Linked DNA regions of Homo sapiens. The protein of the gene in region 2 interacts with the protein of the main gene of each other region in a pairwise test. Each region holds a gene or a part of one and is shown on either strand. Other genes may lie near its edges.

Region 1 (7,032 bases), on a different chromosome or scaffold from region 2:
CCTCAGTGTGTACCTCCACACTCATTCCCCTTAGCAGGCCAACTCTAATTTTATTAAAGTTCCTTAAATCAAGCAAAATCAACTTCCTTATAACTTCCTGATTCTGCTGGCCTGAAACAACTCAGAAAATATCTATTCTGGTTTTGTTGTTGCTCCACCCAATGATTCTCATCCTCTAAACACTTAACGCCTATTTAATATTTAATGAATACAACTTGATGGATCTACATTGCATTATCTTTTCTTCTTCTTCTTCTTCTTCTTTTTTTTTTTTTTTTTGCCTAAGGCTCAGAAGGGCAGGGAGCATTTTTGAAGTTTGGAATTATGTACATAGTCAATCATACTCACGGGGTTTTTGATTTGGAGGTATTTAATTTTCTAAATGCATGAATATGGTTCCTTCTTTAACCTCCCACATGTATGTACATAGCTGCCTAACACAAAAGCTCAGGCCTATTTGGGACTCTCAGATGTACATACTCGGAGGGACACACCCAGTGTTGCTACCTACTAGGTCATGGTTAGATCAATCCAATACCAGGACACAGGCTTCTAGCTAGGCCTTTTGGGGATTGTCCCATAATTTGGTCCATAGTTCATGTAGCCCACACCTATACATTGTCACCACCCATCATAGTAATTACGGGAACAGGCTGCCCATCAAATGTAGCCTCCTTGTAATTGCTGGCCAGCAATCTGGGTATCAGCCCCTTGAGAAGAGCTCCTAACCCTTAACCAGCGTAGAACGGGAATTTTCTCACCATAAGCTTCCCTTTTCTAATACTCTTCCCAGATCCGCCCAGGTGATCTTGAATTTCTGGACTGCACTTGCTATTCAGTAATCAAGGAAGCCCAAATATGGTTCCAGTTAGGGGTTTACTTGAATCTTCAGCACCCAGCCCCGACATACACACGTCCTGAGACTGCTCTTTGCAACAATTCAGTCCCTGGTGTCCTGCCTGGGTAAAACCATTTCCTTCAATTTACCTGGGAGATTCACTGATACTAAAGCAGAAAGATGAAAGCACAAACACCTGTGGTGATTGCTGCTTCTCTCTTCCTTTTTAACAAAATGTTTGGGTCAAGGTTTTCTTTTGTGTTGTGGAGATGGCATTTCCCTGGAACTGCAATGGAATCCTCTGCTGTTGGTGCGCTTGGACTTACGTGGCTGTGACAGTTTTTCTATTTGCTGAGCCTGTTTCATGAATTGTTTCTTCAAACCGGGTAGTTAAACTAGAGAGCCCTTTCAGCACAGGTTGAAAGCGTGGCAAGAATCCTGGAGCAGATGTAAGACAGCTGACTAGGAAGACAGAGGGGCAGTGGTGTTATCTTGACGCTGCCATGTAACCACAGGCGAGACACTTGTCTTCTTGCTTTCGGAAGTTGAACTTGGTGGTTCTTTCAGACCCCTTATGGCTCTGAGATTCTAAGATTCACCCAGGCGTGGTAATCCCAGCTACTTGGGAGACTGAGGTGGGAGGATCACTTGAACCTAGGAGTTTGAGACCAGTCTGGGCAACATAGTGAGACCCTGTCTCTAAAAGAAGAATTTTAAAAAGCAGGGTGTGGTAGTGCATGCCTGTAGTCCCAGCTACTTGGGAAGCTGAGGCAGGAGGATTGATTGAGCCCCAGGGCTTTGAGGCTGTAGTCAGCTATGATTGTACCATTGCACTCCAGCCTGAGCAATGAAACAACACCCTGTCTCAAAAAAAACAAAAACAAAACAAACCAACAAACAAAAACACCAAAAAAACGAAAAACAAAAAAATTAAGATCCTACCATTTCTATTTTGAGATATCCCTTGCGCTGATGCTAGCAGCTGGCTTAATCTGTAAAAATTGATAGAAAAGTGAAATAGGGCAACGTGTGGCATTGAAAAGGGCATTTTGCAGAGGATTCTCGTCTCCTGGGTGCCTTGAGGACCCACGGAGCCTCCTCTGCCCCATCCACTCACAGATTCTTTAGGTATGGTGTTCCCCGGACTTACCCTCAGCCATGAGCATTCACTCGGCACTAGGAATAAAAGAAAGAGGTTTGAGTAATTAAACGTAAAGGGTGCCAGCTCAGATGAGGAGGGCAGGCTGAGTCTGTGAAGACATTGACAACAGCAAAGCATTCACCAGGAACAGAATCAGGCTCAGGGAGAAACTGAGCTGGCTCTGGGAAAGAAACTCCACCCTCTTCTTGAGGAGGGAGACCCTGCAGCATGAAGGTGTGGTGTACAGGTGTGGACAGGAGCAAATGAGGAACAGTTTGAGAGGAGGAAGAGGAAGGTGCAACTAGGACAGGAGGGAGGGAGGGAGGGCAAGTGGGATGCTGTTTCCCAGGCCTGTGTGTTGAGGGAGGAGGCAGGCAGAAAGACCTAGAAGCAGGAGAAAAAGCTAAGTGGATAGAGAAAGACAGAAAGGGGGCAAAAGAGCAAGGGAGAAGTGATGAGGATGTTTCCCCTTCCATCCTTCCACTCTTGTTTGGGGACCACCCACCCTCAATGTTTCAAGGCAGTCCTTCGGTCAAAATTCGATTCTTTGTCCCCTGTGAAGAATCTTTTGTCGCATTGGCTACTTCTTGTTTTTTCAGGATGGTTGACACCTCTTTGGTATCATTTTAGTTTCCACTACATGTGCCCACCAGGCTGGAACCTCTTCAATGTTTCTCCTCTTCCAGGTCAGATCAGAGCTGAGAGCAAAACGGGGTTCTTGATCCTTAGACTTCTCATTTCAAAGAATCAAAGACCCTTCCCCAGGACGCTGGAGAAGGGGAGTTGGACAGAGGTTTGCAACCCTGAAACAACTAGTTTGGGGCAAGGCAGTGTGTTCACATTGATCTCAGAGAAAGCTCTGAAGCTGAGACCTGGAGCTTCCCTTTATTGAAAGATAGTCTCCATGTCTGGGTGGGGTGGGGACTCCTGTGCTGAGGGTTAGAAGGTTGCTCGGAGTTTGCAGGGGGATATTGTTCGGGTCTGTTTTGGCCAGGCAGGCTGGCTCTGCTGGGTGGGACTTCTCAGCAAAACGACAGGGAGAAGCAGTGGCCTCGGAAGACCCTGTGTTTTTATAATTGGCACAGTTTTAAGGGGTATATGCTGACTCTCTGATTAACTCAGAGAGGGTAGGAGGAAAAGAGAGAACAGTAGATCTGGTAGAAGTTCTAGAACTTCCACCAAACCCTAAGCCAAGAGACAGGAGAGAAAAAATCATGCCAGGTGGAAGAGCCCTGCCTGGAAGGTGCGAAATGGCTTCAGTTCTGATTCAATTCCATTTCTCCTTTGGGGACGTGCATTTCCTTCTTATCAAGGGGTTGGACTGAATGACCTCAATGCCTCTCAACCTCTAAAGAACGAATTGAAATGAAGCCCTGAGCCCACCTGATGGGTCTGGGGTGTCTCTAGGCGAGGGGCCTCCCCTCCCAGCTTGCCGCCTTCCAGGAGGCTGCAGCTTTGCTGGTTGAAGCATGTTGCCGCCATCTACTGTTGGTCCCACCCAAGCGCCGCTGGGGCCGGGCCACACCTAGGTTTTCTTCCCAAACCCCTAGTTATTATCTTGGCAACCTCTCCCTTGAAGACATTCTGGCTGCCAGAACACTCGTTTGTCAAAAGCAGAAGGCAACTCACGCTTCCGTCCTCGCCCAGGGAACATCGCCTGATCCCTTGACCAGCTGCAGTCTGGGGGAGTAGGCTGGGCCCCAACTTCACAGCCCAGGTCTGGCCTCAGTCTTTGCAGATGTTGCCCAGATCCACCCCTCCCCTGGACACGAAGGAGGACAAGCGGAAATAAGAGAGAGAGGTTATTCTTCTTGGGAGCATTTGCAAAAACAATATTCATGCCACTTGTTTGCCTTTAGCATAATTGTTGGCCCTCAGGCTCTGCCAGAGAAGCATAAAGCCCATTTCCCCGGCCCGAGCCTCTCATTTTACACAGAGGAAGAGACCAACCAACCAGGAACTGTGTGGCCCCCACTCTGTGCCTGGCACAGGCCTTCAGCCCTCATGCTAATCCTGTGAGGTCTACAGGTCACAGTTCAGACATGGTGGAGCCAGGATTGGAGCTGAGAATCCCTGCTCTGTGCTACTTTGAACTCTGTGCCTGTAGGAGCCACTGACCAGAGAGGTTATGTGATTTTTCTAAAGTCAGAAGTTGGTCAGGGGCAGATTTATTATAAGAATCTGGTTCTCCAATAGGTTCTCTCTCTCTCATACAGTGTGCTTGCCCCACTCCCAACCCACACCTTGGCTCCTCACCCCTGACTATGTGAGACTCTGTGCTAGTCTACACAGCACCAGACCAACACGACTTGCTGTATAATAACCCCCATTTATAATAGCCTGCATTTGGAAGATGAAAAAAATAATTGTTTTCCCTGCAGCATGTAGGTCCCTGTTACTTTTGCTGCTTGATTGACGATGTTTCTCCTGGTTGTAAAAACTGCCCTGTATTTTCCAACATCAAGTCCTACCTGAGGTTCCTTCCTTCCACACCAAACATGAGCTATGCAGAGGCCGGAGGAAATGGCCCCTGAGAATCCTTTTTCTCCCCATGTTTCCCACGGAGAAATTAATCCCCTGCTTTCCCACCCCTGCATAAACACAATATTGAGAATGGAAAAGTACACTTGATATAAAACAACAATAACAGTGGCCAGAGAGGCTCATCCAAGGTCTCATCCACTCAGCCTGCCTTTAATCCCAGTCTTTTCCTCCTCCAGACACATCCTCTCCGGCTGCCCCCAGAAGGGAGTGCTTCCTTTTCTGCTTTTGTGTTACATGCGCATCCATTTTGCCAACCAAATGATCCTTCATGGGAAACAAACACATCAAAACCAAACCAACAAAAGCAAAATGCTCCCGACTTGCGCAGAGGACAGAAAGGCTTTCGTGCCACCCTGCGTGGTGTCTTAGGAAGGAGAGGCAGCTGCGGAGTTTCAGGTGTCACGCTGAGGAAGGTGGTGTGGGGTCGTCTGACTCATGGGGGTCAGTTGACCAGAAGCGGCTACGCCTCTCTCTCTCCTCGTGCTTTGGAGGAAGCACCACGTCTTTGGTCAGATGCTGTGAGAAAGCTTTCTCCAAAGTTTACAGTTATCCAGAAAGAGATCAGAATCTCACTGTCAGAAAAACACTGGCCAGCAAAAAGACAGGGAGTGTCTAGCAGTAATCTCAGGACTGTGTTATGACTTGACTGAGATTTTGAGATCTAAGGTGAAGGCCTCTGGTGAATCTTCTGATAACCTGGTAGTTCTGCTGTGAAGACAACCATGCTAGAAAGAGGAAGAATTAGTCTAGTCAGGTAATCTCACCGGCAGAATTAAAAGTCATGGTGGTCGTTGCAAAGAGCACACTCGGACGTATTGTCAGAAAAATCTTTCTAATCGGGGAAGGGATCCTGGTAGGTAGTGAGCTCTCCATGACTGGAGGAGGTTAAGCATGATTCAGATAGTTCTTTGGTCAGATTTGTAGATGACTTTCTTGAATTGAAAAGGAATTTTAAAGACCTCCCTCTTCAGTCCTGAGATTCTATAATTCAAAGAAGTAGAGAGAAAGATTAAATCTGCAGACAAACTAGTGTTTAGAAATTTAAGACATTTTCTTTGCATTCACTTATTTCCTCTTGAACAAAAGGCAACACACACATATATACCCTTGTATATTCAAATGCACTCAGGAAACAGTCACATATTTACATAGGTATTTATATAGAAATATATAACAAAGTTTGCATACAATAAGATGCTCAATACATAGTTGTAGTAAAGTATTAAGCAATTTCTGAAAAATAATAAAGGACTAAAGTCTATGTATGTTAAAAAAAAAAGGAAATATTTTCCCTCTATAATTCTGTGTTTATTATGAAGTCTTCAGTCATTTTGACATTGATTATTTTTCCATGGGGAAGAAAATATGGCCATCCTTAATTCATTTATTTGTTCATTGAACAGATATTTATTTGGTACCTGTCACAGGCAAGACTCTCCCTTCAGGGACTTAAAATCTTAGGGCTGTCATCAGTGGTTTTAATAAAAAGCTATGTGAGGGCAATAGAAGAAGAGAGAAAAGAAAACTGCTCCTAACCTATGGATCTGGGAAGGCTTTTTAGAAGAGGTAGGATTTTAGCTTGGTTGAAAAGAATTTGATAGACTGTCACTGAAAGAAGAATACAAAAGCAGAGCTTTTATTTTTGGAAATCCAAGTCCTGGGATTGCAAGGGCTGGCTTGAGGTGCGTGGAGCCTCTTTCCTGCTGATTGGTGGTGGTTAGAGGTGGGGGTTTGGAGGTTCTTGAGCAGGGGAGTGCCATGGTCAGATAACCCAGTAGCAGGGTAGAAGATATGTTAGAGGGGAGTTGTTCAGAGACAGGGTCATGGGTGAGGCTGATGCCATGGTCAGGCTAGGACCTGAACTGGACAGTAGCAATGGGAATAGAACATAAGGAAGGATGTGAGATAAGTAATGGAGGTAGAAACTCAGGGTAGGACTGTGATGTTTTGGGCAACAAAAGTGGAATGAGGGGAAGGGAAGATAGGACATTTGGCAGTGGTCATTACTGCTCTTTTCTCCCCAGAAAAATCCTGGCCTTTCTTAAGCTGCCAGGGAAATGCCAGCCAGATCCATACCCTGCTTCTCAGAAAGCTCTCTCGTGCCCTTTTGTAGAGAAGGTCTCCATGATGCCTTTCATTCTGGGAGAATCTCACCCACTCTCAAATGAATCATGGAAATTTGAGCCCTGAGGGCCTCCCCCAGTGTTTGCATCGTCTTCAGCTCCTGATTTCTGAGCATGCTCCCCTCCCACCCCTCAGCTAGGGCTAATTCTTCAGTGACTCAAGCCCCAGGATTTTGACCACTTCCTTCACTGGGGAAGTGGGTTTTTGGTTGCTCTATTCTATTGTGTTGCTCCCAGTTATTGTGTTTTAGGTCACTCTTAAAGAATTGCTGCTGCCGCCAGGCCCCATGGCAGTTCAGTGAACACACAGACTTCTGGACAGGAAGAAGTTATCTGACTCCTAGGTTAGCAATCAGGGAACCAAATTATGCACCTCTAAACTTCCC
Region 2 (4,029 bases):
CATCACTGCCCGCGGCCGGTGGGGCAGGCCGGCCACTCCGAGTGCGGGGTCCGCCGAGTCCACGCCCACCCGGAAATCGCGCTGGCCCGCAAGCGCCGCTCCCTCCACACCTCCCTGCAAGCTGAGGGAGCCGGCTCCGGCCTTGGCCAGCCCGGAAAGGGGCTCCCACAGTGCAGCGGCGGGATGAAGGGCTCCTCAAGTGCCGCCAAAGTGGGAGCCCAGGCAGAGGAGGCGCCGAGAGCGAGCGAGGGCTGTGAGGACTGCCAGCACGCTGTCACCTCTCACTGGGAGCCAGGCGGACCCTCCAGCCACAGCCCGGCCGACCCCTTTCCCACCAGTGCCAGCCACTAAGCCTGTCTGCTCCAAGCCCCTTTCCCGTTTCCCTGACCAATGTCCCTCGGGATTAGGGACCAAGGAGCAGCTGTCTAGGATGCGCGCCTTGCGTCTTCCATGCCCTCCCCTCTCCCTCCTCTTTGCATGCTGTTTCTCAGTTCCCAATAACCAGGCCACACAGAGATTCAAGCATTTGTTTCTTCTTTCCTACGCCATTGAAGAGGCTGACGATTATAATAATTACAATGAATTACAGAAGGAGGTGGGATCTCAGTCCTCCAGGGTCAGGGACTCTTAAACTACCTCCTTTCTCTCTTTGCTCAGCTCTTCCCCATACCCCTGTCTCAGTGTTTCTTCCTTTCCTCAAAATCCTCAACAGAGAAGCCAGAGCTGGGCAGGTGTGGGGTATGGGTTAGCCAGAGGTGTGCTGGGGTCAGGCCACCTCGCCGGTGGCATTCCGCCTTTTCTCACACACCCAGCGGTACACCTGCAGGCAGAAGTCATCGTTCCAGCGGCCATCCGGCTGGACTTCAACACAGTCTTCACTTCCACCCAGCTCGTGCCCGTGCCAATTATCTGGCTGAGTGACAGCCCAGTTCCTAAGGAGGCAAGAGAAAACTCGGACTCTGCCACGGTGGTGAGAAAGCGACTTACCCATCCTCCTCCTCTTCATGACCATTTTCCTTGAAGGCCGAGAGTGGAGCTGGGGTGTGCCCTGCTACCCAGTCTGGGGAGAACCCAACCGCAGAGAAAGATGTTTCCTATGCCCAGTCCCAGCAACCCTCACCCCCAGCCCAGAAGAGCACAGCTTTGGAGGGGTTGGAGTCTGGGGAGGAGAGGATTGGGGAATTTGGTCCCTGAGGGACGAGTCAGGGTAGCTTGGAGTGAAAGGCCAGGGGGCTGTCCCCAGAGAAATCTAACAAGGAGATGAGGGAAGAGGCCACTTACTTGTAGTTGTGCCTATAGTCTGTGCCATCCACCCATTTCCAAGAGCCATCACTGTCCGTGAGACCTATCCAGGTATTGAAGGGGTTCGTGTGTTGTACAATGAATTTCTGGAAACACAGGCAAACAGGAAATTTCTAGTCTCTTGTGCCTTTCTCCTCCCTCCATGCAGGCATGGAACTGTGGCCCCTCTCAGCCTTCCCCAGCCTGATCTGCCCTCAGGCTGAAGCACCAGCTCCCGACAAGACTGCTTCCTAGCTTTTTCTTCCGTCACTCTAGCTACTGTTCAGTGCACATTTGCTAGGCTAGACTTCGTGCTGTCTGTGCAAAGATGATCTCATTTAATCCTCAGAAGCTCTCTAAGATGGGCACTGCAGTGACCACATTTTGCAGGGAGTTGCAGAGCCAGAGAGCCAATCCTGTACCTGAGTTAGTGGCCACTGTCCCCTGTTCACAGCCCTGGGCCGGTGTCCCCCTTCATTCCCAGCTTATGGCTCTACCCAAGTTCCGGTTCTCTCCCTGTCTTCTGCCCACAGCCTCGAACTCCTGGGATCCCGACCCTGGTCCCTGCTCTTACTGCCCCCCAGACCCCAGACCCACTGAAGATCTCAGTTTCACTGGCCTCTCAAGTACATTGGCCCCTGGTAGCTCTCGCTTCTATGTGTAGCTGTCATTTCCTGAGATCTGTCAGGCCCGGGAGCTTCTAAGCTTGGACCCACTGCCCAGGGCCCCATTATGATCTAGCTACGTGGAGTCTGACAATCGGGGCAAAATAGGAAGACACCGGGGTGTGAGGAAGCAGCCCGGACAGCCAGTTGCCAGGGGCTTGGGTGAAAGTGGACTTCGAGCCTGCAGATAGCTCCCCGGGACCCACGCGCACCCACACTCCCAGCACGGTAGCCCCTCCAAGTGGCTTTCTCTTACACATACAGCTGTTCCTGGGGACCTAGGTCCCGTGGTTCGGTAGGGTAGGAGGGGAAGGTGTGGTCACCTGGTTTTGTGGAGAAAGTGGAGAGGGATGGATCCGTTGAGCAACGTGCACACTTAACAATTCCCTTTGACAGCCTGGAATTTTCCTTCCAACAGTATTTGAAGGACAATTGCCTAATTCTACTCTCACTCTCTAGAAAAACAACTAAGGTTGCAGTTATTCACCTCTTCCGATTGAGCATCAGAAACTGGGGCATCCCTAAATTCTGGAATCCCACAAATAGGACAAAGTCCCATGCATGAAGGGGCAGCCCTCAGAGGCAGGTGAGGCTGCTCCCCAAATTCAGAGGAGTCAACGGAGTTGGAGAGAAAGTGCCTGGAGACAACACACACTATGTGCTGCTACCTGCTGCCAGCCCTCCCTCCCATCACCACGAGAAACAGAACAACTGAGCAGACTACAAATTAGCAGTATCCAGCCCGCCGTGTTAAAGACTGAGAGGAGGAATCAAATCATGCCAGATGATCAGAGAAGACAGTCCGGGAGAATTCATTCCCCCTTTCCTGGGTGAACCATAGGAAAGAAAGCACTGTGCCCATTCACAAAAGTAATGGAGAAAATCATCATGGAACTTATGCCCCCAAAAAGAAAGAGGAAGATGAGGCAGATGAAAAATGAACTGTGATATCAAAAAGAGAGGTGAAAAATAGACTTTGAAAAGAAGCCTTGTTTCGGAATATGAGGGGATGTTGGAGAACAGTTTCTTTTTTATTATTATTATACTTTAAGTTTTAGGGTACATGTGCACAACGTGCAGGTTTGTTACATATGTATACATGTGCCATGTTGGTGTGCTGCACCCATTAACTCGTCATTTAACATTAGGTATATCTCCTAATGCTCTCCCTCCCCGCTCCCAAGAACAGTTTCTTTACATGCTTCAAAAATTTTAAAAAGAATGACATAAAACATGAAAGAAGATATAAAAAAAAAAGAGAACATGATAAGGAAAGGAAATGAAAAGTTTGAGCTACATACTAAAAAAAAAAGCCCAGGTGTGGTGGCTCACGCCTGTAATCCCAGCACTATGGGAGGCCAAGGCAGGTGAATCACCTGAGATCGGGAATTGGAGACCAGCCTGACCAACACGGAGAAACCTCATCTCCACTAAAAATACAAAATTAGCCAGGCGTGTTGGCGCATGCCTGTAATCCCAGCTACTTGGGAGGCTGAGGCAGGAGAATCGCTTGAACCTGGGAGGCGGAGGTTGTAGTGAGCCAAGATCGTGCCATTGCACTCCAGCCTGGTCAAAAAGAGCAAAACTCTGTCTTAAAAAAAAAAAAAAAAAAAAAAGCCAGGCGTAGTGGCTCATGCCTGTAATCCTAGCACTTTGGGAAGGCCAGGCGGGAGGATCACCTGAGGTCAGGAGTTCAAGACCAGCCTGGCCAACATGGTGAAACCTTGTCTCTACTAAAAATATAAATATTAGCCAGGCATGGTGGCAGGCACCTGTAATCCTAGCTACTCGGGAGACTGAGGCAGGAGAATTGCTTGAACCGGGAGGCAGAGCTTGCAATGAGTCGAGATCGTGTCACTGCACTCCAGCCTGGGCGAAAGAGCAAGTCTCCATTTCAAAAAATAAAAATAAACAAAAAATTTCAGATAAAACACTTGAGGGGCCGGGCGTGGTGGCTCACACCTGTAATCCCAGCACTTCAGGAGGCCAAGGCGGGCGGATCACGAGGTCAGGAGTTCAAGACCAGCCTGACCAACATGGTGAAACCCTGTCTCTACTAAAAAATATAAAAGTTAGCCAGGCA
Region 3 (7,555 bases), on a different chromosome or scaffold from region 2:
GACTTAAGGCAAAAGGGAAGGCTGCCTCCTGGGCTCCCCAATCCCCTGCTGCAGAGCTGGTCTGTGATACTGAGAAAACACCTGCATTTTGCCCTTTCAGCCAGCTCCCTCAGAGGTTACAGCAGAAGGGGATGGTGGGAGGGTCCTATTTCACTTCACCCCTCAGGCCCTTTCCACCCTCAAACCTTCTGCACAGGAGACTCAACAGGCACAGCCTTCTTTCCCCGTTGCTTTAGACGGCCCCGCGCGTAGACTCTGAGCAGGAGGGCAGCAAAGACCACAGCCACCCCCAGCCCTCCCACCACAGTGACAGTGTGGCCATAGAGAAGGCAGGAAAGAAGGATGGCAAAGGCCTGGCGGAGGGTCATGATGATGGTGAAGACGGCAGCCCCAAACTGCCCAATGGTGTAAAAGATGAAGAGCTGGCCACATGCGGAGCAGATGGAGAGTAGCAGGGCATGGGCAGCAAACTCACTGTGTCGCCCCATGAAGCGGGTTCCCTCCAGTAGGGCCCCCTGTTCTAGCAGTGAGCCCACTGTGAAGAGGCAGGAGAAGAAATTGACCCCAAACATCATCTGCACCGATGACATCTTATAGGCAAACAGGGCATCCTGCCAGTTTGAGGTGAAGCTGTCAAAAGCAATATAACCTGCCAGTAAGATGAGGCCTGAGAGTGTGGTGGCTGGGGAGCTGCGGGGCTCTGGTCCGCTGGATAGCAGAAACATGCTGACCCCAATGGAGATGAGGGTGGCTGTCAGGTACTCCCAGTGTTCGTAGCTGCGCCGAGACACAAGCTTTCCCATCAGCATGACAGGGATCACCTTAGAGGCCTTGGCCAGCACCTGGGTGGGGAAGCTGACGAACTTAAGAGCTTCGTATTGGCACCAGCTGCTAAGCACATTGGACAGGCTGGCAAAGGAGTACCGGTACATGGGTGCCCCATGCCGGGGCTGCTTGCAGAGAACACAGGAGAGGCCAGCCACAATCAGTGCCAGCACTCGGTTCATTAGCACCAGGAACTGCGAGTCCGTAAAGCGCTCACCCGGTGATGTGGCTGTGGCCCCATAGCTGCGGGTCATCACTCTTTCCTGCAGCACACCCCAAGTCAGATAAGACACCTGTTGGGGAAGGTAGAGACAAAGGAGACAATAAGCAAGATAATGAAAAGGTAGACAAAAATTGACCTCTCTCTCTTCAGGATTATGCCTAAGTGATTCAAAGGAAAATATACACTTTTTGGTTCCTCTGTAGAAGTTTCTTCTCCCCTCCTAAGTCTGGATTCACCTTGTAGGGAATCAACTGTGTGTGAAAAACCTATTCAGGGAGGCAAGAACTCTCAGAATTGGGTATCTGTAGTTCAACATGATATTCAAGGTGGAACTAGTACCCACTGCAAAATGCCATGGGGTCAGCATGTTAGCACTCTCTCACATGCAGTACTGGGGGAAGGCTGAATGGCTCCCCCACAATTTTATCAGTGGGTTTACAGTATGTGAGACACCAGTGCAGGAAGGAAGTATAATAACGGCACAGTAGAAATCACAGAGAATAGGGCAAGAGGAGTCCTCTCTTCTGCACTAGACATCTTGAAATAACAGCATGAACTTTCAGTACCAGTGCTGGAGAGGAGAAAAGGAAGAAACAAAAGGGCATTTCCCCCAAACACCTCAAAGATGGAGGTGCAGTGTGCCCCTGGGAGGAGGACACGAAACACACCAGCCAGCAAAGCTCTGGGACTGGTAAAATGGAAACCTTCACAGAATCCCTGCCCACCGGCATCCAACCCAGGAAGAGAGGCTGAGCCCACCTACCCACCTGGAGCCCTGTGGCACAGAAGAGCAGCTTCAGGGCCTGCCACATCGGGGTGGTCTCTGCCGCCTCTGTTCGGGGCGCCAGGGGAACCTCATCAGAGGCCTTGGGCTCATTGCCAAACACACAAGCTTTCACCAGGGGAAAGCAGAGGCCCCTACCTGAAGAAAGCACACAAAGTCAAGCCCCAAATCTTCTCCATAGCACTTCATCTTCCCCAGAGCAGCCAGCCTGCCCTGCTGTCCGGCCTACCGACCTCCCGCCCTCTCCAAGTCATATCCCGTTTGGACTGCTGGCCAAATACCCTCTTTCCCGACCTAGCTCACTTCCCCGCCCTTTCTTCACACACCGGTCTCCAGGTAGTTCTTCCGCCTGAAGTACTGCACCAGGAGGTAGCCAGGTACCATAAAGCTGGCATAGCCAGCAGCATTCACCACAAATCGGAAGAACCATAGCTGGGTCCATGACTCCGGAGGGGCTTCGGGAGTCTCCCCACCTGCCCCTAGGGAGGGGAACGCAGCCAGCACCACCACTGCCCACCATCTGTAAGGAAAGCGGACATAAGGATTAGGGCGCAGCTCCTCATCCCCTCCGCCCTCCAGAGGGGACCACACTGGAGTAGTGCCCGGAGTCTCCTCCCCGCCCCCTCCGCTGCAGCTCCGGCCCGGACAAAGAGCCTCTCTCTCTCTCTCTCTCTCGGGGAGGGGGTGCGCCGGCGCTGGCCAGGCAGAGCTTCCTCCCTCCCCGGGGGCGGATCCGCCCCTCTGGCCACACAGGTCTCCTCTGTTCCCTCCAACGCTAGCCGGCTGCTCAGGTCAGAGGAAGCGCCCCTTCCCCCACACTCCCCTCCACGATCCGGGACGTCAGGGTCCCCAGCCCCTCCGCCCGAAGCTCCCCAAGGAGCACAAAACCAAGCCGCAGCTCCCATCCCCGCTGGCTCCGGGCAGCGATATGCTGGCCGACGGCCGAGCAGCCGGGACCCCACCCGGCCCCCGTGCTGAGGCGCGGCAGTCACGTGGCCCGGGGGCTCGGTCACGTGAGCTCGCTGCTGCCCTAGCCCCCACCTGGCGTCCATGGTCCAGGCCGCGTGGGGTGGAGGGGGAACCGGGGAATGCGAGTCCCCGGGCCGCGCGCCCCCTGCGCTCCCGCCGCCGCCTCCAGGAGCGGCCAGCGAGCCAGCGGCCAGCGGAAGTGCCGCGCTCTTCCCGCCTCCCTCCCCGCGGCCCCCTCCGCCCCTGCCGCGACCACGCAGCGCCCCGGGCCGCCGCCGGACCACAGCGCCCCCGCGCGGCCCGGAGGCAGACGCGGCTTGGGTTCCGGGGACCTGGGCTGCCCCTGGGCGCGGGGAGCCCCAGCCCTGAAGAGGCGCCCGCCCGGCGTGTCCCCTGTGCTTCGTCATCGCCCTTCATAAGCGTCCCAGAGGTCATGGTGACCATTGCCATCTTGTGGACAGGACATTGAGGCTCTGCATCCCAAGCCGCTCCTCTGTGTTAGTTTCCCCGTTTTCTGACAGGATGAAGGTGTCTCCTTGCTTTGTTGGCTGGGTAGTAATTCTGTCCCACTTCCCATGATCTTCGAGGCTCTACATGGCCTCGCCCGCGTTCCTCGCCCACTCACTCGCCCGCTGTGAAGCCCCACTGGCTTGCTCTCAGTTCCTCTAATTCACAGGCTTTCCCCCTAATGCTCTGCCCCCATCCCTTTACTCATCCTTACATCCCAGTTGAGATGATACTCCTCAGGCGAGGGTTCCCGGACCACCCAAAGTATGACCCTCTACCGACTCCATCCTTTTCCTTCCCACTATTCTTTTCCCTTCATAGCACCCACTGCAACTTGGAAAGGCATCTTTATTTGGATGTTTATGCTTTTAACGGCTGTCTCTCTCACTGGATGAGACGCTCCAAGTGGTCAGAGACTGTGCTGGTTTATTGCCCCATGCTCTTCATGCCAGCATAGGGGTGACCTAGCAGGGCCCTCGAAGGTGAGGAACGGGGGGAAAAACGTGGAGTCAGCTCCCTCGTGCCCAGCCTCCCTGGGTTACCCTTATCCCCAGGCTCCTCCAGATGGCAACCCCCAGGGCAGTGGTGAGGGCTCCAGGGCGTGTGTCCTCTCATTCTTCCTCTTGTCCCTCCATCCCTCATCATTTCCACAGCAAGGACAAGGGTCTGTGCTGGACACAGAGAAAGGCCTGGAACTACTGGCCTCTGACCCCACCCAGCAAGGCCCTACCGTGCTCAGGGGACAATTTCCTTCTCTCTGCCTCTACCACAAAGTCACAGGGCAGGCCTGTCTAAAAAGCCCCAATGCACACAGACATGCATGCGCGCAAAACAGCTCTAGAAGGGAAAAACTTTTTTTAACGTCTCTGCCATTTTAGTGTCATGTTACTGAAACTTCCCTTCCCCAGTGGCTCAGTTCAGAGCCTTCTGTGTGAAGTCTTTAAACAACGGTGTTTCAGGGTCCTCAACAGCAATAAGATGGGACACCTCTCAGGGTTCTGCTTGCTCCTATTTCAGTCTCTTCTCACTCAGGAGAGTCCATGCTTCCTACTGGTTGGCAGTTTCAGGCTGACCCAACATGGGTAAAACAAGAGCACCTGCCATTTTCAAGAGAGGCAAACAGGCTTCACCCAGGATACCTGGGGCTTTGGGGGTCTTCCAAGAAGCCCTGTCCACCTGGAAAGCTCTTCCTTCCAGACTGGCTCTCTTCCACTTGCAGTCCCTCCTCCTCGGCTCAGGACTGTACTGGCTGGCCCCAGGCTCTGGCCACAGCAGTCCCTAGGGCACCAGAAGAGCACATAGCCTGGGCCCAAACTGCAGCAGTTATGGCTCCGGCTTCCAGATGGAGAGGTGGAGCCCTGAGGATCCCAGACCCTGCCTGGCTTCAGTCGGTACACAGCAGCAGTTTCCCTGAGATCTTCAGGTCATCAAAGGGCAAAAGGACAAGGGACTGAGAAGGAGAATGGAGAGAAGCAAGATCAGAGGACATGGGAAAAGGTGACTTGGGAAAGGGGACCCAGGGAAACCTGTTGGGCCACTCCCTCCCCACCAAATGACAGTTGAAGACCATCAGGGAACAAATCTTCACACGAATCCTCAAAATAGTGGCCCCTCTGGGCTTGGCAGAGCCCTGAGGACTTAGACAAGCCTTCCTTTTCTAAGATAATGCCAGAATATCCGAGTTAGGAGGGACCCTTAGAGGTGATCCAGCCCATGGACCTGGAGTTGTTTGTTGTTGTTGGGGGATGGGGTGGGGGGGCTGCTGGGTACTCGCAGAACATTTAGGTTTCTTTTTTACACTGAACATTTAAAAATAGGAAAGACTGTACAGAAAATCTGAGTTTCACCTCTCAAGAAAGTCCAAGACCAGGAAAAACTGGGCCTACACTCCTGCTTTGTAAGCCTTTGCTGAAGCTGAGTACAGAGACCCTCAGGGATGGCTCTCTGGGTTCTTATAGGCCTCACCACACCATGGTCTCATATCTGGCCAACTTCACTGATTCACTTTAACTGCAGGGTCCCTGTAAGAGTCCAAATTTGGCTCCTTGGACCAACTAAGGAAACAGGCTCAAGTTCCCACAGTTGGTCAGTGGCAGAGTCCTGGTTATACCCCAGGACTCCTGGCTCCCTGGCCCTTTCAGCTAATGACAGAACCTCTCTCTGCTATGGGTGTGCAAGGCCCTGGAGAGCAAAGCATATGCCACTTACTTCCTCAGTCAGGTCCTGGGGCGTCTCATCCTCCACATTCCGCAGCAGGGAGTCAGCACCCGCCTTGCACAGAGTGGATGAGATGCCCATGAGACCCCGGCCAGCTGCCAGGTGCAGGGGTGTGCACCCGTTCAGCATGCGGGCATCTACCTGGGCACCAGCCTGGAGCAGGAACTGTACCAGGCCCCGCTCTTGGGTTTCCACAGCCAGGTGCAGCGCTGTCTTACCACTGGTGCCCTCCTGGGGAGGAATAAGGATGTCAGCCAAGGCCCTCAGAGGCAGTGTGCTGGGCCTGGGCTCTGGATAAGGAAGTGAATGCCACCACTTCTGACTGCTGGGCAGGGGACTTGGGGATGTGTCAGGTGGGGGCAGGCCCTGGGCCGGGCAGTGCTTTGCTGGCTGTCTCACCTGCACATCAATGTCAGCTCCATTCCGAAGCAGCAATTCCATGAGTGGTTGGTTCTTCTGAAGGGTGGCAATGTGGAGACAAGCCAGACCTGGGATGGGGTGAGAGTGAGGGTGAGGGCTGCTGATCTGCATCCACCAACTCCCTCTCTTCTGGGACCTCCCTACCACTCAGCCCCAAGGGACTCACAGCCCACTCAATGTCTCTAATCACAAGACTGTTAAAATGCAAACCCCAAAACCCCCTCAAAAGTCTAAGGGGAAAGGAACTCAAAGTTTCCACCTTTTCAGAGTCATGTTATTGAAACTTTCATGCTTCAGGGGTCAGGCTGCTGAGTGACACCCCCAAAGAACACCCTCCTCCTATACACAAACTACAACACACACACACACACACACACACACACATACAGACACACACACACACACACACACACACACACAACCTGCCTTCAAGCCCAGTCTGAAAGCCACCTTTTCTGAAAAGCCACCTAAGATCCTCATGCCCCCAGCCCTTTCTCAGGGGCCGCTTCCTTCTGTGCTCCCCTGGCCTTTTTGCTCTCCTTTCTAGTCTGGACACTCCCGACCCTTGCTTAGTAATAGAGATTTCGATTCAAATTTACATTCTTCACCTTCCTCAGGGCGCTATTCAGATGTCACTGGCTCCATGAGGCCTTCCCGGACCACCCTATTTAACAATCATATCAACTCTCCTACTCCCCACATTCCTTCCTCTCACTCTGCTCTGCTTTTTACTACAGCACTTACTTCCTTTTAACATATTACATAGTTCACTTCTTACATTTATTGCTCATCTCAATCTTTCTCTATTTTGCACACAGATGCAAGTGTAGCTCCTAGGATAACGTCTGGCACATAGAAAACCCTCAGTACATTTCTGTTGAATGAATGAATCAGGTCATCTAATCTCTATTAAACTAAGTATCTTAAGGGCAAGATTTAGTTTTCTTCTCAGCAGGCAGTAGGTACTGGTTAAATTCGAAATCAAATCATCCATTCATTCATTTGGCAAAGATGTACTGAATATCTATGTGCTTACAGTGGGAGGGGCACCAATGGACAAGCTGGGACCCTCCCTTCCCCAAGAGTGAGGTCCCTATCTCCTATGCCCTCCTCATCCCACAGGCCCTAAGGGCAGTCTTAAAGACTGTCCACACCTTGCCAGTTTTGCAGCTGGAGGTCCAGAGAGTGAGATGTTCCTCTGCCTGGCTCTGGCCGCCCTTCCAGCAGGCAGCGGGCACAGGCCAAGTGCTGGCGCTGGCAGGCCACATGAAGGGCTGTGTCACCATGCCGGTCCTGTAGTGCCCGGCTGGCCCCCTTCAGCACCAGTGCCCGAACTGCGCCCGGTTGGTCCAGATGTACAGCCAGATGGAGTGCTGTCTGGAGGCACAAATAGAGGGTCATGGGGCCACTGCAGCATGCTCCCACCTCTGGGAACATGCTTGGGCTCAAGAATCACCAGCTGCCAGCATCTTCTTTGAAAGCAGCTTATAAAGGCCATAACCTGTTCTTCCAAGGAAATACTACCGAGCCCTTCCCCTGTCACACCCCTCCCCCACCAAGCTCTTGGGATCCCAATTCTGGAAGCAAGGTGAAGAAAGTAGCTCTCTGCT
Region 4 (7,032 bases), on a different chromosome or scaffold from region 2:
ATTATTCTTGGCTACCAAGATCAATAACAAGGATGACACCAGTCCAAGGTTGACAGGCAGTTGCTAGGCAGATTTTCTCACGAGAGAAGTTTTTTGGTGCAAGGTTGCAGTGGCCTTTGTGTAAGGTTGTAGTTTTTGTAAAAAGGAAAAAAAAAAACCCTTAATCCTTGTTATCAGACATACAAGGGTGAGACCCTTCTCTTCAGGGTTGCATTTTTGTTAACACTAGTGACTCCATTTTGATTTTGACAACTTGCACATATCTTAGTTGTTGGGTTTTTTTTGTTTGTTTTTTGTTTTGTTTTTTTTTTTTTTTTTGACAATGGTGACTTGCTCTGTCACCCAGGCTGGGGTGCAGTGGCCCGATCATGGCTCACTGCAGCCTCAAGCAGTCCTCCCCCTTCAGCCTCCAAACTGTTTGGATTATAGGCAAGAGCTACTTACTACACCTGGCCATGGATCTTCTTGTGTCAACTTTGAGACCAAATTTACTGCAGTGCTTAAAATGTTTTAAGAAGTTATACACATGTGCTGGATGTGGTAGCTCACGCCTGTAATCCTGTAGCAGGACAAGCCGCAGACAAATCCCCTCAGACACCGAGTTAAAGAAGGAAGGGCTTTATTTGGCTGGGAGCTTTGGCAAGACTCACGTCTCCAAAAACTGAGCTCCCCGAGTGAGCAATTCCTGACCTTTTTAAGGGCTTACAACTAAGGGAGTCTGCGTGAGAGGGTCGTGATCAATTGGGCAAGCAGGGGGTACGTGACTGGGGGTTGCATGCACCGGTAATTAGAACAGAACAGAACAGGACGGGATTTTCACAGTGCTTTTCTATACAATGTCTGGAATCTATAGATAACATAACTGGTTAGGTCAGGGCTCGATCTTTAACCAGGACCAGGGTGCGGCAGCGCTGGGCTGTCCACCTCTGCCTTTTAGTTTTTACTTCTTCTTTCTTTGGAGGCAGAAATTGGGCATAAGACAATATGAGGGGTGGTCTCCTCCCTTAATCCCAGCACTTTGGGAGGCCAAGGAAGGCGGATTACGAAGTCAGGAGTTTGAGACTAGCCTGACCAAAATGGTGAAACCCCGTCTCTGCTAAAAATACAAAAATTAGTCGGACATAGTGGCGTGTGCCTGTAACCCCAGCTACTCAGGAGGCTGAGGCAGGAGAATCGCTTGAACCTGGGAGGCAGAGGTTGCAGTGAGCTGAGATGGAGCCACTGCACTGCAGCTTGGGTGACAGAGCAAGACCCTGTCTCAAAAAAAAAAGTTATACACATGTAATTATTGCATGTTCCTTCATTATTAGTTTTAACATAGACTTGTTAATCTCAATTAGCTTAATTAGCATTTGAGTTTATTGCTAAAACTTCTTTATGAGTTTTAATAATGAGGCTTGGCCGAGTGTGGTGGGTCATACCTGTAATCCCAGCATTTGGGAGGCCAAGGCGGGTAGATCACTTGAGGTCAGGAGTTCAAGACCAGCCTGGCCAACATGGTTAAACCCCATCTCTACTAAAAATACAAAAAAATTAGCTGGGCATGGTGGCACATGCCTATAATCCCAGCTGCTCAGGAGGCTGAGGTGGAAGAATCGCTTGAACCCAGGGGGCAGAGGTTGCAGTGAGCCGAGATCGTGCCATTGCACTCTAGCCTGGGCAACAGAGCAAGATCGTCTAACAACAACAAAAAAAAAACCAAGGCTGAATTTCTTGAGTGATTGAGCAGTGGCTATCTATTGGACAGTCCAGCTGAACAGTATTTTCCTCAGGCTGGGTGCAGTAACTCACACCTATAATTCCGGCACATTGGGTGGCTGAGGTGGGCAGATCACTTGAGGCCAGGAGTGAGACCAGCCTGGGTAACGTGCCTAGACTATATCTCTACAAAAAATTTTTTAAATTAAGTGGCCCAGTGGCCAGCTGTAGTCCCAACTCCTTGGGAGGCTGAGGCAGGGGGGTCACTTGAGCTAGGAGCTTAAGGCTGTGGGGAGCCATGATTGCATCACCACGCTCCAGCCTGGGTGACAGAGTGACCTCGTCTCAAGGCTGCAGGGAGCCATGATTGCATCACTGCACTCCAGCCTGGGTGACAGAGAGAGGCCTCGTCTCAAGGCTGCGGGGAGCTGTGATTGCATCACTGCACTCTAGCCTGGGTGACAGAGTGACCTCGTCTCAAGGCTAGAGGGAGCCATGATTGCATCACTGCACTCCAGCCTGGGTGACAGAGAGAGACCTCGTCTCAAGGCTGCAGGGAGTCATGATTGCATCGCTGCACTCTAGCCTGGGTGACAGAGACCTTGTCTCAAGGCTGCGGGGAGTCATGATTGCATTGCTGCACTCTAGCCTGGGTGACAGAGAGACCTTGTCTCAAGGCTGTGGGGAGTCGTGATTGCATCACTGCACTCTAGCCTGGGTGACAGAGAGACCTCGTCTCAAGGTATGTTTCATGTATCTTCTCTTTTTTCATTGATAAAGGCCCAAACTTCCCAGAGAGAAAAACATACAGCCTTAAGGAATTTGGCTAGAAGTCTATTCAGGGCATATGATACGATAGAACAGGGATTCTGTAGAACCTGGAAGAAAGTAGTCACTCTAGGAGTAGGTTAGCTTGAGAGAAGTAGCAAGAATGTACTTAAAGCAGCAGATAATGAGATAGAATTGGGGTAAATTGCGGTAGGAATATGTTAGAAGCAAGGGTGGAACTGTCGTCACTGTTACCTCGATGGCGAAGCCAGAATGTGAGGCTCTTGCTCTTAGAACTCACGTGAGTACCATAGCCTCGCGTTGTCTTGCAGGACACAGATTATCCTTATTTGGGTACCACCATGGACACCTATAAGGAACTGATTGAGAGGATTCCTGAGTTGAACAAAGTGGCACGAGCAGCTGCAGAGGTCGCTGGTCAGTTCGTGATTAAACTAACCCATGATGTTGAATTGAACCTGGACTATGAGAGGTACAACAGCCAACTGCTTTCATTTGTGAGGGATCTGAACCAATACAGAGCAGACATAAAGGTGAGCACTGATTCCAATTACGTTTTTATTTTGCTGAATGTCAAGTATTTTGAAATGTGATGTGTTCCTGTGTGTTCCTGTTGGAAGGGTGATTGTAGCCATAGTACATTTTAAAGTGAACTGAGGTATAATTGTATGTAGAATTGGTAACTTGTTTGAGAGAAGTCGGGAGGCTGTGGATTAGAGACCTAGGACAGAGCTCAGCAGGTGTTTCAGAATCCAGAGCAGTGTCAGGTTTTCTGTCACTCATGTCTCCCAGGCAGCCCGTCAGTAGGACACGGAATATGAAGATCTCAGCAAGGAGTTGGGCTGTGTGCCTCTCGGGCGTGACCCGGATGGAAAGACAGCACAGCTAGCAGGATTCCATCTCGTAGTGATCTGCGCATCTAAAAGTCAAATATTCTATTAAACGAAACTGATAAGCAGGGTGAGGTGGTGCATACCCGTAGCCCCAGCTACTTCTGCTGAGGCAGGAGGATTGCTGGAGTCCAGCCCAGGCAACATAGCAAAATCCCATCTCTAAATAAATTAATAAAACTAATATTAAAGTAGCTTCCAGATTGTTTTATGGTACTAGGAGTTGATTTTTAACAGATCTCTTAATTGAAGTAAATCACTGACAACCGAATCTTTTTATATCTTTTTTATTTTTATTTTTATTTTATTTTTTTTGAGAGATGAAGTCTCGCTCTTGTCCCCCAGGCTGGAATGCAATGACATGATCTCGGCTCACTGCAACCTCCACCTCCCGGCTTTAAGCGATTCTCCTGCCTCGGCTCCCCAGGTAGCTGGGATTACAGGCGTGTGCCACCATGCCCAGATAGTTTTTGTGTTTTTAGTAGAAGCCGGGGTTTTACCATGTTGGCCAGGCTGAAGTGCAGTGGCGAGATCTCGGCTCACTGTAAGATGCGCCTCCCGGGTTCACGCCATTCTCCTGCCTAAGCCTCCCGAGTAGCTGGGACTACAGGTGCCGGCCACCACGCCCGGCTAATTTTTTGTATTTTTAGTAGAGCCGGGGTTTTACCATGTTGGCCAGGCTGGTCTTGAACTCCTGACCTCAGGTGATCCACCCACCTCGGCCTCCCAAAGTGCTGGGATCACAGGCATGAGCCACCACGCCCGGCATCTTATGTCTTTCTTGAAACTAATTGTAACTGTTGAAAATGGAACTTACCAGGTGGAAATAACTAAATCCTGAAGTACCTTGAACCAAAATGTTTTCCCCTATAGGGACATTTTCCCCCAAAAGGAGAATTGAACTGGAAACAATATAGTACATAGGATTATATAATTATGTTCAATTTCTTAATGAGAATGGTTTTCTTACATGCTGGGCTCAAATATGAGTGTATATCACAGTCCATAGAGCTTGGAACCCCTGTGCAAGGTGCTTTCGGAGTCTTGAGCTTATCTGCGAGTTCCTTTTATCAGAATCTTACTTAACGCACGTTAAATTAGAAAGGCATACAAAAGAATGTCCTTAGAAATAAAACTTCTCATAGCGAATAATGTCTGTTTCAGGAAATGGGCCTGAGTTTACAGTGGCTGTATTCTGCTCGTGGAGACTTCTTCCGTGCTACTTCCAGACTAACAACAGATTTCGGGAATGCTGAGAAAACAGACAGATTTGTCATGAAGAAACTCAATGATCGTGTCATGAGAGTAAGTGAACTTTTGGGAAAGGAGGAACTAAAGTATGTGTAAAATAACCGATAAATCTTACACTTCTGCAAAGTGGACAAACTCTAGGAGTCTAGAATTCCTTTAAGAAGGGAGCATTAATGGTTTAGCTGTCATTTTCTGTTTCTGCTGTCTAATTCAGAACTTAGTCAAACCTAGTCTTTTTGGAAGAGACTTGCTGTAAAACTTCCATGTATGCTCCAATGGGGAAAAGAATCTGAACACATTTAAAGTTTTCCTTTGTAAAATGAATCAGTTTCCTTTAAAAAAATTTTTTTTTTTTTTGAGACAGAGTTTCACTGTTGTTGCCCAAGCTGGAGTGCAATGGCACGGTCTCGGCTCACTGCACCCTCCACCTCCCAGGTTCAAGTGATTCTCCTGCCTTAGCCTCCCGAGTTGCTGTGATTACAGGTGCCCAACACCACGCCCGGCTCATTTTTTGTATTTTTAGTAGAAACGGAGTTTCACCATGTTAGCCAGGCCGGTCTCGAACTCCCAACCTCAAGTGATCCACCTGCCTTGGCCTCCCAAAGTGCTGGTATTACAAGCGTGAGCCGCTGTGCCTAGCCTCCTTTAGAATTTTAACCTTAGAAGATTAGCATTAGCCTGGTTCTCAGCATTCTTTTTTCCTTACTCTGCTATAGAAAGTCTGATCAGCTGGCTGGGTACAGTGGCTCATGCCTGTAATTCCAGTACTTTGGGAGGCCGAGGCAAGCGGATCACCTGAGGTCAGGAGTTCAAGACCAGCCTGACCAACATGGAGAAACCCCATCTCTACTAAAAATACAAAAATTAGCTGGGCGTGGTGGTGCATGCCTGTAATTCCAGCTGCTCAGGAGGCTGAGGCAGGAGAATTACTTGAACCCGGGAGGTGGAGGTTGCAGTGAGCTGAGATCGCGCCATTGTACTCCAGCCTGGGCAACAAGAGCGAAACTCTGTCTCAACAACAACAAAAAGCCGGGCACGGTGGCTCACACCTGTAATCCCAGCATGAATTGCTTGAACTCGGGAGGTGGAGGGTACCAGTGAGCCGAGATAGCGCTGTTGCACTCCAGTCTGGGCAACAAGAGCGAAACTCTGTGTCAAAAAAAAAAAAAAAAAAAAAAAGTCTGATCGGCATTCTTAAATTTGGGACATTTTACATTTGAAGTGAACTGTTGTTTTACTACAAAAGTCACAGGGCTGTGTAAATTGCCTTGTGTGTTGTTTTCGTAGGTGGAGTATCACTTCCTCTCTCCCTACGTATCTCCAAAAGAGTCTCCTTTCCGACATGTCTTCTGGGGCTCCGGCTCTCACACGCTGCCAGCTTTACTGGAGAACTTGAAACTGCGTAAACAAAATAACGGTGCTTTTAATGAAACGCTGTTCAGAAACCAGTTGGCTCTAGCTACTTGGACTATTCAGGGAGCTGCAAATGCCCTCTCTGGTGACGTTTGGGACATTGACAATGAGTTTTAAATGTGATACCCATAGCTTCCATGAGAACAGCAGGGTAGTCTGGTTTCTAGACTTGTGCTGATCGTGCTAAATTTTCAGTAGGGCTACAAAACCTGATGTTAAAATTCCATCCCATCATCTTGGTACTACTAGATGTCTTTAGGCAGCAGCTTTTAATACAGGGTAGATAACCTGTACTTCAAGTTAAAGTGAATAACCACTTAAAAAATGTCCATGATGGAATATTCCCCTATCTCTAGAATTTTAAGTGCTTTGTAATGGGAACTGCCTCTTTCCTGTTGTTGTTAATGAAAATGTCAGAAACCAGTTATGTGAATGATCTCTCTGAATCCTAAGGGCTGGTCTCTGCTGAAGGTTGTAAGTGGTCGCTTACTTTGAGTGATCCTCCAACTTCATTTGATGCTAAATAGGAGATACCAGGTTGAAAGACCTTCTCCAAATGAGATCTAAGCCTTTCCATAAGGAATGTAGCTGGTTTCCTCATTCCTGAAAGAAACAGTTAACTTTCAGAAGAGATGGGCTTGTTTTCTTGCCAATGAGGTCTGAAATGGAGGTCCTTCTGCTGGATAAAATGAGGTTCAACTGTTGATTGCAGGAATAAGGCCTTAATATGTTAACCTCAGTGTCATTTATGAAAAGAGGGGACCAGAAGCCAAAGACTTAGTATATTTTCTTTTCCTCTGTCCCTTCCCCCATAAGCCTCCATTTAGTTCTTTGTTATTTTTGTTTCTTCCAAAGCACATTGAAAGAGAACCAGTTTCAGGTGTTTAGTTGCAGACTCAGTTTGTCAGACTTTAAAGAATAATATGCTGCCAAATTTTGGCCAAAGTGTTAATCTTAGGGGAGAGCTTTCTGTCCTTTTGGCACTGAGATA

The links.
Region 1: the proteins of ASGR2 (region 2) and EMP1 interact in binary tests that used the Homo sapiens proteins (3 or more experiments, as listed by UniProt).
Region 3: the proteins of ASGR2 (region 2) and SLC35B2 interact in binary tests that used the Homo sapiens proteins (3 or more experiments, as listed by UniProt).
Region 4: the proteins of ASGR2 (region 2) and TFRC interact in binary tests that used the Homo sapiens proteins (3 or more experiments, as listed by UniProt).

What each region holds. Positions count from the first base shown.
Region 1 is NC_000012.12:13,199,703-13,206,734, forward strand, and holds part of EMP1 (epithelial membrane protein 1), read left to right. Parts: intron 1-7,032.
Region 2 is NC_000017.11:7,100,809-7,104,837, forward strand, and holds the end of ASGR2 (asialoglycoprotein receptor 2), read right to left. Parts: intron 1,389-4,029; coding exon 1,282-1,388; intron 933-1,281; coding exon 767-932; 3' UTR 518-766; downstream 1-517. UniProt on the Homo sapiens protein: Mediates the endocytosis of plasma glycoproteins to which the terminal sialic acid residue on their complex carbohydrate moieties has been removed. The receptor recognizes terminal galactose and N-acetylgalactosamine units.
Region 3 is NC_000006.12:44,254,527-44,262,081, forward strand, and holds the start of SLC35B2 (adenosine 3'-phospho 5'-phosphosulfate transporter 1), read right to left. Parts: upstream 3,003-7,555; 5' UTR 2,885-3,002; coding exon 2,874-2,884; intron 2,763-2,873; exon of another isoform or gene 2,656-2,762; intron 2,353-2,655; coding exon 2,159-2,352; intron 1,971-2,158; coding exon 1,816-1,970; exon of another isoform or gene 1,812-1,815; intron 1,119-1,811; coding exon 180-1,118; 3' UTR 1-179. Other genes in the region: NFKBIE (NF-kappa-B inhibitor epsilon), read right to left, coding at 4,693-4,758, 5,517-5,756, 5,925-6,013, 7,100-7,322. UniProt on the Homo sapiens protein: Probably functions as a 3'-phosphoadenylyl sulfate:adenosine 3',5'-bisphosphate antiporter at the Golgi membranes.
Region 4 is NC_000003.12:196,051,068-196,058,099, reverse strand, and holds part of TFRC (transferrin receptor protein 1), read left to right. Parts: intron 1-2,798; coding exon 2,799-3,020; intron 3,021-4,541; coding exon 4,542-4,682; intron 4,683-5,915; coding exon 5,916-6,158; 3' UTR 6,159-7,032. UniProt on the Homo sapiens protein: Cellular uptake of iron occurs via receptor-mediated endocytosis of ligand-occupied transferrin receptor into specialized endosomes. Endosomal acidification leads to iron release.